Regions from separate parts of the Homo sapiens genome. Here region 2 is linked to region 1. The links come from fine-mapping of genetic effects on gene expression. Tissue or cell type: adrenal gland. Region 1 holds a variant in brackets; the other region holds the start of a gene. All regions are shown on one strand. Distances are between the middles of the regions.

What was found. PIP is the estimated chance that this variant, and not a neighbour inherited with it, causes the effect.
Region 2: it holds the start of TMLHE, and the variant in region 1 is fine-mapped to the expression of TMLHE in adrenal gland (GTEx, PIP 0.96).

The regions. Positions count from the first base shown.
Region 1 is chrX:155,106,193-155,111,192 of GRCh38, forward strand. The region is part of intron 7 of BRCC3 (BRCA1/BRCA2-containing complex subunit 3); the gene reads left to right. Among named protein-coding and RNA genes, the nearest start is that of BRCC3, 37 kb to the left of the region's middle. The variant C/T (reference allele first, on the strand shown) is at 3,046.
Region 2 is chrX:155,610,289-155,615,414 of GRCh38, forward strand. It overlaps TMLHE (trimethyllysine hydroxylase, epsilon), which reads right to left and starts at 2,664. Exons shown (of 8, transcript NM_018196.4): 1 at 2,504-2,664. It overlaps SPRY3 (sprouty RTK signaling antagonist 3), which reads left to right and starts at 2,298. Exons shown (of 3, transcript NM_001304990.2): 1 at 2,298-2,359.

The DNA.
Region 1 (5,000 bases):
TTTCTCATATAGGTTTTGTATATGTCATACTGAAATTTATTCTTAAGCATTTAACTTCTTTTTTGCTTTGTTAATGTTTTTTTTCTATTACATCCTCTGTTTTTTGCTTGTATATTTGAAGGCTACTATTTCTGTATGTAAATTTTTATCTTCCTGAATTCTTTTGTTCTTTGAGTTAATTATACCTTTATTTCTCTAGAGCTTTCCAGATAAGTATCACACTCCATCTGCAAATACTTTTACTTATTTCCCAATTCCTAAACCTCTAATTGATTCCTTAAATATAACTGCATTGCCTAATATCTTCTTTAGAACATTAAATAGTAGTGGAAATAGTAGATGATCTTGTTTTGTTTCTGATCCTTATGGAAATTCCTGTAGCATTTCTTCATTAAGAAAGATTCTGTATTCAGGAAAAATCATAAGTGCTATCAGAAATATTCTTTTTTTGTACTGTCTTTATCAGGTTTAGGTATATATATTACACTTGCTTCAGAAGAATTGTTTGGAGTTTTCTTTCACTGTCTAGGCTGTGACAGAAATGTAAGTAGCAGTGAGACAATCAGTTCTTTGACAATTCCTCTATGAAATCAACTAGGCCTTTTTGTGTTTCTCCTCTGGGAATTTATCTGTTTATGCTTTCTTTCTGTAATGGGGTCAATTTTGGTACAGTTTCCTAAGAAATTATTCATTTTTTATGGTTTGCAAATTTATTTACACAGAGATCTCTCTGCCAGATAGTCTGTCATATTTTAAATCTCTTGTATTTCAATAGTTATCTCCCCCTTGTCATTTCATATTTTGTATATTTGTGCTATTTCTTTTTTCCCTTGGTTATGTTAGCCAGTGGTGTGTCAATTTTGTTATTTTTCCTTGAAACACTGATTTTTATTTAGTTATTTTTTTTCTATTCCCAACCTTACTACTTTTTCTTTTATGTTTATTATTTCCTTCCTTATGTTTCATTTTGGTCATTTTGTTGTGCTTATCTTAGCATTTGGAGTTTGGAATTTAATGAGTATATTTTTTGTCTTTCATTATTATTGATATAAATGCTTAAGGCTGTGAATTTTCCACTGATCTTTGCTTTAAATATATCCCATAGATGCTAAGTAGTATTTTTATTTATTTTTTTTTTTAAAAGTTCTTTAATTTTAGCACTCACCCATTTTACTTCCTTTCAATTTGGTATCATGGTGTAGCTATTCTAAAATGATCCTGCTCCCTAATGCCCTCAGAATAAAGCCCCAAACCTGCAGCCCTTCATGGTTTGCTTATTTCTCCAGCCATGTTCTCTCTCTGTCATATGCTCACTCTGCCTACAGTTTCCTTTTTCCTTATACCACCTGGCCAATGTCTAGTCATTTTTGAAGATGAAGATCAAATTTAGGAATCCTTCTCTGATAATTCTCAACCCCCAATACCATCCCAGTTAAGCATTCCTCCTGGAAACTTAATAAAATCATATACTTCCTTTTTGTAATACTTATAACATTATATTTTAATATTTTGTTTTTCCACTAACATTGTAAGATCCTTGAAAGAAGGTATGCTTTTTTATTACTGTTCCCATGGTGTTCAGTAAATATTTGTTTAGTGTCCCTTCAGCTGTAGATTTCAAAACTACTATTTTAATGCATACATTCTGACCTGTGAGCTCTAGCATACTCTAGAGCTTCTTTGTCATAAACTTAGTTTGGTTGGTTGGTCTTAGCTTTTCAATTGAAGTGTAACATACAGAAAAGTACACAAATTACAAGTGTCCAGCTCAATCAATTTTCACAAAATGAAAACACCTATGCAACCACAACCCAGATCAGCTCCATGAATTTTTACAAGGTGAACGCCTGTGAAACTGTACTACATATCAAGAAATAGAACCTTACCAGCCCTCCAGAAGCCTCCTTTGTGACTCCTCTCAATTGTTATGCCCTTGTTTTTTTCCCAAAGGTAACCATTATCCTAATCTCTAACAACACAGATTAATTTTGTCTGTTTTTGAATTTTATATAAATGGGAAAATACGGTAAGTACAACTTTGTGTATGGCTTCTTTCACTCTGTTATGGTAGTTCTTTTTTATTGCTGTGTAATATTTCATTGTTGGAAATTACCACAATTTACTTATATGTTCTATTGTTAGGCATTTGGGTTGTTTCCAATTTGGGGCTCTTATGAATAAAGCTGCTATGAAAATAATCCTTACATAAGCCTCTTTTTGCCCATGTGAATGCATATCTTTTCAGTATGTACACAGAAGTGGAATTGCTGGGTTATCACTTTAGTAGAATAGTTTCCAAATTCACATCCTTGCCAACAGTGTATGAAGGTTTTCACAGCTTAACAGCTTCACTGACAATTAGTATTTTCTGACTTTTTCATTTTTTGCAGTTCTGGTGAGTGTGCAGTAGTATCTTATTGTGGTTTTAATTTGGATTTCCCCAGTGACTAATTAGGTTGAACACCTTTTCAAATGTTTATAGGCTTTTTGGATATCCCCTCATGTATAAGTCATATTCATTTTTCTTTAACTTTCTTAGTACTTCAAAAGAATTCCAGTATGTTCTGGATACAAGCTGTCAGCTATACCTATTCCAAGTATCTACTCTCTCACCCTGACCTGGTTTTCACTATCTTAATGGTATCATTTGATGAGCCTAAGTTGTTTATTTAATATAATAGTCCAAATTATCTTTTTATCTTTTCGATCTAGTGCTTTTTAGTGTCCTACACTATTTAAGACATCTTTCCCTATCTGGAAGAGATGCTTTATTATTTCACCATTCGTGCTTAAATCTACAATCTACTTAGTGTTAACTTTAGGATATGATGTGGGATGTGAGTTGACATTCCCTTTTTCCCACGTGTGTATCCAATTGACCTGGCACCATTTATTGCTGCCTTGCCACTTTGCCTTAAATCAGTCGTCCCTATATATATGATTATGTTTCTGGACTCTAGGCGAATTCTGTTTTGTCTATGTGTCTATCCTTGTGTCAGTAACACACTTAGTTGCTGTAGCTTTATAATAAGTCTTGATGATATG[C/T]GGTAACATTAGTTCTCCCCTTTGTTGTTATTCTTCAAGACTGTCTTGGCTATTCTTCGCCCTTTGTAGCCCCATATAAATTTTAAAATCGGTTTGTTGATTTCCACAAGAAAACTTGCTGAAACATGTCAGCTGAAATTTGACTGGGATAGAATTGAATCCATTCATCAATTTGATGTATCCCTCCATTTATTTAGATTTTAATTTCTCTATCTTTTGTATTTTTCTGTGAAACATCTGAAAAGATTGCACACATCTTTCATTTAAATTATTCTTGGGAATTTGGTGTTTTATGTTATTGTAATTGGTATCTTTTCATAATTTTCCAGTTGGTACCGGTTATTTAGATAGCAAATTGATATATGTATATTGGCTTTATATCCAGCAGCCTTATGGATATAAATGTACTTATTAATCCTAATGATTTATCTGCAGATTTTATTTCCTTGGGATTTTCTATGTAAACAGTCATGTCTTCCATAAACAAGGGCAATTTAATTTCACCCTTTCCAATCTTTACACCTTTTTATTTCTCTTTCATGCCTTATTATACTGTCTCAGTCTTCCAGTAAAATTTATGAATAAAATGTAAAAGAGAATGCTTTAAAATTTCCCAATTATCTCTGGTGTTTAATTTAGCTTTTCTGTAGTTAGCCTCTATCATATTAAGGAAGTTCCCTTGTATTTCTAGTATTCTAAGCCTCTTTTTTATGATTGAATGTTGAATTTTATCAAATGCTCCTTCTGCATTTATTAAGATAATCATATGATTATTTGCCTTAATGTGGTAAGTCGCATGAACTGATTTCTGAATCTTAACCCAGCTTTGCATTCCTTAGTCACTGTATATTATCTCTTTAGTGTATTCACTAGGCTAATCTTTTTAGGAATTATATATCTTTTTCATAAATAAGATTGATCCATAATTTTCTTTTCTTTAAACACCTTTGCTAGATTTTGATATCATGGTTTTGCTGGCTGCATAGTACAAAGTAGAAAATGTTCCCATATCTCGATTTTCTGAAATGGTTTGTGTAAGTTTGGGTTTTTTCTTTAAATGTTTGATAGAATGTAACAGATTAGCAATGTCAGTGTGGAGTTTTCTTTGTGTAAAGTTTTAAATTATAGGTTCAGTTTCTTTAAAATATGTAGGATTATTCTGATTTTCTGTATCGTTTTAGTTTTGGCAAGTTGTGCTTTTCTAGGAATTTATCCTAGAACTTTAGTTTACATTGTTCACAATATCTTCTTATTATTCTTTTAAAGTTTGTAGGATCCGAAGTGATTTCTCTTTTTTCATTCCTTACATTAGTAATTTTTGTGTTCTCTGTTTTTACCTTGATCAGTCTTGGTGGGGGTTTATTAATGATATCAGTCTTTTCAAAAGAGCCATAAATGTCCCTTTAAGCACTGCTTTGGGTACATCCATAATTTTTATTTACTATCCTTCAGTTCAAAGTATTTCCCTTGTGATATTATTACCCTTGTGATTTACTTTGATGTAGGTGTTATTTAGAAATATTTCATAAGATGAAATCAACACATGCTGCCCCTATATCTCACTGAACTCAACTATATACTCTGGAAAGAATGCCAAGCCTAGCTATTTGTGAACTCTGGAATGTAAATAACAGGCAGATTGGAGAAGGGCCCCAAAACTCAAAATACCACAGAAGTGGGGATATAAACAAGATCCAAAGTCTCATAACTTAATATCCAAAATAACCAGGACATAAACCAAAGTTATTTAACATATTAAGAACCACAGAAATCTCATCTTGTATGGGAGAAGATAATCAACAGATACAAAAGGCAAGATGACACTTATGTTGGAAATATCTGACAAGACTTTAAAAGCTGCCATTATGAAAATGCTCAAGCTATCAGTCACAAAAATGTTGCAACAAATATTTAAAAAGAAAAAGTATCATATAAGAAATAGAAGATAAAAAGAA
Region 2 (5,126 bases), 500 kb after region 1:
TCCATAGGCACAGAAAGTAGATTAGTGGTTGTCTGATGCTGGGAGTAGTAATGAAGACTGACTGCAGATGGGCAAGGAAGATGTCACTGACGTGATGCAAATGTTTTAAAATTAGATTGTAGTGATGGTTGCACCACCCAATAAATTTATAAAATCACTTTAAATATGCAAATTTTATGGCATGTAAATTATCCTAAATACAATATTTAAACACTGTGAGCATCAAGAAAAAAAGAGAACTTTCATCTCCTTACTTTGACAATTTATTAGGGATCATACAGAGGTCATTAGGCTGTTTGTTGTTGTTGCTGTGGTGGTGGTGGGTTGTGGTTTTCCCATGAGAGTCGAGGGTCATGCAACCATTTGGTCTTTTAAAATAAAAATTTTTAAATCAATTAAAAAAGAATATTGCTGGCTTGAAATTTGGAGTAGTCATGGGACAAAGAGAAGTGGATGGATTTTTTAAAATATTCAGGATGTAGAAGTGACAAGATTTTGTAGCAGTTAGATATAGGGAGTGGGGAAAGGTGAGGAGGCCTCAGACTGAGTATGCTTAAAGTTGAATTCCTGTTGTCCTCCCGAACTGGCTGTCCTGTGCTGCCAATCTCAGTGAATGGATCAGCATCCTGGCACAGAGTTGACATTCATTGATTGCCTTTGGAGTGAATGAACAGAGTATGATGAATAGAGTGAAAATATAGCTAAACAAGGCAGACACCAGGTCCTGCCAAATAGCCAATGCAAAACTCACCCTTCAGGTTGGCTCAGCAGATATCCAGCATAATTTTTTTCTCACCTTTCAAACCATTTGGGAAATCATGAGGTATTTTCCTCATCCAGAAGAACACTCACCTACATATCAGCCACTCCTTCCCTAGAACCTACAGGTATGGAGCAGGCTGGGTTTTTTCAAGAGCCTCTTATCCTGTAAATCTTTACACAGGGCAATGGCAGGTGCATGTACAGCCCATATGAGCCCAGGGGATGCTTGGTATTATAGAAAGGGGATCACAGTGGTGCCCAACTGATGGATCCGTGTTCAGTTTGCAGGAAGAGACTCTTCCCACCAAAGAGGTTTGTTAATCCTGGGGTCCCCCTCCCAGCCCCTGGAGGCATCAGATACAGCTGTCAGAAACATTGTAAACACCCAGTGATCCACTTGGCTGGTTTTACTGTTGTTCCCAGGGTTGACAAGCAGAAATACAGAACAAATGGTGGTTCCTGAAACAGAGGCCAAAACAAGGAAGTGATCTGTTCCAGTCCAAGCTTCCAAGAAATAAAGAACTAGGTGGGGCACACTAAACAAGCCCCCAGACTCAACCACCCCAGTAAACATTCCCTTCATCACACTGGTTATGAGATAAAGTATAAGTTTTTTAAGCCTTATTATAAATAACCTTACTTAACGTCTTCTGGTTGTTGTGAAAATTATAGTATTTTGCAAAATATATGTTCACCATTATCATTACCACCAGTTCCTTAATGAGGAGAAACCAGAAGTTGACACCAAAATGTTGATCCATAATGTTTATAGTCCTTCTTTGTCTTTATAGTTAATGTAAAATAAACTGTATGTAATTTTTACTACAGTGTGTCCTGAAAGGGCAAACCAAGCTACAAGCAACTCTAAAAGACTACTACTGTATGGGAGTGGATTATGAAAGTGTTTCTTAAATATGAGAGCTCAAGTTTTTCTTTCAGCGACTGAGTTAAAGCACGCAACTCATTTATCATGAGACTTTTGCTAGGCAGTGTACTATGTCCACTCAACACACATCATTTTAGGCAATCATCTGGTTAAAACGTTTAATAGTATGGCATTCACAAACCCATTCTTCAGAGTTGACATTCAATTAATGGTTTGAATGTCGTTTCCAGGGCAGTCAGGAGTATTTAAAGGCTTTTCCATTGTTTTCGGAAGAGAAAGAAAACTTCCTAGCCTAACTTACTTACCCAGAGCCTTGCTCCAGAGGGGGCAGACAAAGGGTAAAATCTGGGCAGAGAACATTAGTGGATATGAGAACGAAAGAAAGTGCTGCAAGATCTTGCAGACAGCTGAGTTCCACCTTCCACTCTACTGCCGAACAAAGTGAGGCAGGAAGAGGGTAGGGACTCGCTGAAAGCTAAACACCAAGTCAGTGACAGATCCAGGGCTGTAAAGTCCGACCGAGATTGAAACAATGTACACTGGGCGTCAGTCCCAACGCGAGCTTGCTCCAGCTCTTCCAGCTCTTCCTGAGCGCTAGGCCCATCCGGCCTCACGCTGATCTCCGGGCAGACTCTGTCGCGCAACTGGCACAGATCGTGACGACAACCCTGCGGCAAGGCAGGAGTGGCCTTCCTCTCCGCCAGGGTTAAGGTGAGTACCACCGCCCTTGGGCCCAGCAGCCCGGGTGAGAGCCTCCGCCGCCCACTGCGACAGGCCTGAAAGCGAGCGCCTGGGTAAACCCACCCGTAGCACCCATGGGGACACCCCTTCCCTGACCCACGGGACGGAACCCACCTGTGCTGGAGGTCGTGACTGCTAACTCCGCAGAGTGGGCAGAATTCCAAGCAAGGAGAGTCTCGGGAGGCAGCCTTTCACCCGCCTTTTGCCTTTTCACCCCCAAAACTGTCGGCCCCACGCTCCCCTCCCCCAGCCCGCTCGGGCCCAGCGGAGAGCCTGTAGGCCCCGCCCCACTCCTTCCGGCCGTGCAGGGTGGGTGCCTCTGGCGCCCGGGACTTCGCCCGGTGCTAGGGCGTCAGTCTCCCATTCGGAAGGACTGGGCCGGGGCACTCTATTCAATCGCCTTTAGTGAACATACTTGAAGCTATAGGTGCAGGGATGAGAAAAAACAGGCCCATAAAGCTATAAAACCTGGGTCCCCTGCCTGCCATTTCAGTGCTCCTCCCGAGTCCTCCCACTACGCTTCTATTTATGGTAGTTTATCCAGGTTTACTAGAAGTAAAATTCTACTACCTTTCCACCATTTTCTTGAGTTTATGGAAGTCATATACCGCTCATTACTCCCATCGATTCAGCTGAGCATCTTGAACCCAGGGTCCAGATACAGTGCTACATACAGTGAGCACTAGAAGGGAATACCCATTAGGAATGAACACCTTATGCAGGTAAAAATTTAAGAACGATACATATTACAAAGAAGGACCAAAAAGTATACTGAAATAGTATATGCAATGGAAATCCAAGGCAGATTTAAAAAATGAGAGTAAGAACAACAAAAAAAATCAAATGCATATATACTGAAAATGGGAAATTGTGCAGTATTATATTTATTCGAGATTAAAAGTGTTAATCTAATGTCAAAAAAGCAATAAAGGAATTGGTTTGTAGAAGTCAGGATCAACAAAAGAAGAAAAAGCCTCCACATCTTTGCCCTGGAATTCCTTCTGCCATGAATGCTCTTACCCGGCACTTGTTTATTTGGAAAACGGCTACTCGTTATTTTTGACTCAATTTAGATAGCACCTCCTCTGTGAAGCCTTCCCTGTCTTTCCCAGATAAGTTTGTATATTTTTTTTCCCTAGGTCCAGTATGCCCAATGGATCTCGTACAGGCCTCAAGAGTACCACTTACTCTAGATTATAATTTCTCTTTCTGCATGTCTTTGTCCTCTAATGAATAAGTAGCTTCTTGAGAGCAGAAAACTTGTGTTTTTCATATTTGTTCTCCAAGCACAGAGTCTAAAATGTCTATATATTTAATAAATATTTGTTAAAAAATTTCTAGAACCAGTGTGTAAACAAAAGGACATATCCAGAGTGTGAATGTAACATAAAGAGGAAAAACTAAGTACAATGAGAATCTAGATTTAGTCTGGCTGGTATTCATTCATGCAATAAACATTAATGAGTGCCTACTGTATGCCAGGCACTGTACTAAGATCTGGGTGTAAAATGATAAACAAAGCCCAGATATAGTCCATGCCCTTATGCCCTTATGTTTAAAGAACAAATTGGAGTTGGCCAGGCAAATGGGAAAACAAAAAAAGTTTTGGGCAGAAAGAACAGCATGATCCAATGTCCTGTAACAGGAAGATCATAACTGTAGCAATTAGAGTGAATGAGCTCACTTAAAGCTAAGCTGAAATCAACACAAAGTACTCAGAAAAGGCAACAGGTTGATAGACAATACCTGTTTGTTTGAGTCAGTAAAAGAAGCAAGTTTCCTTAATAATAGTAACCAACATTTATAAAATGTGCACTATATGCTAAACACTGGGCTAAGTGTTTGTTTTATATCAAACACTTAAGGTAGATGATATTATTTCTACTTTAAGGATAAGGCAACTGAGGCACAGATAGGTTAAGCAATTTTCACCAGGATCACATGGCAGATAAATTTCAGAGCTGAGATTCAAACCTAGGTAATTTGGCTCCAGACTCTAGGGAGCCTGGATATTTTACTTTTAATAAAATATAAATTTTACTTGTAATAAAATAAAAGTCAGATATTTTACTGTTTCCTCTCTCTGTGTGTGTGTGTGTAGCAGGTCACATGGTGTATGGCACAGAGTGGAACTTCTTAATATTTTTGGAATGAATGAATAGCTGAATAAAAGCAATAGGTACAAATGTGCTAGAAAACAAAATAGAAAAAAACAATAGTATCTGGGTCTTTTTATGTTCCCGCCACACCAGCTGTTCCTAGAACACACCAAACTTGTTCTTGTTCTGCTTCCAAAATATAATCTGCTCATGCATTTGTCCCTCACTGTACTGCTAACATTCCGGACCAGAGTTTGGCTTTTTTTTTTTATCTGTGAAGGGTCAGCTGGTAAATATTTTAGGCTTTTTGAGTCACATACAGTCTTTGTCTCCAGGTATTAAATTCTGCTTTCATAGAGTGAAAGAATTCACAGACAATACATAAATGAATGCGTGTAGGTATGTTCCAATAAAAGTTTATTTACAAAAACAGGCAAGAGGCAGGATTTGCCCTGTGGGCAATAATTTTTAGACTCTTGCTCTAGGCCAAATTATCACCATCTCTTGCATGGACTACTGTATTAAATGATGTCTGAGAGCCATCATCTTTGACTAACATCTACACCTTTGTTTTATCAGCCTCTCAGTGAAGCTTTAGTGATCTCTAATCATATTCATAACCTTGAGTTCTTGAAAGG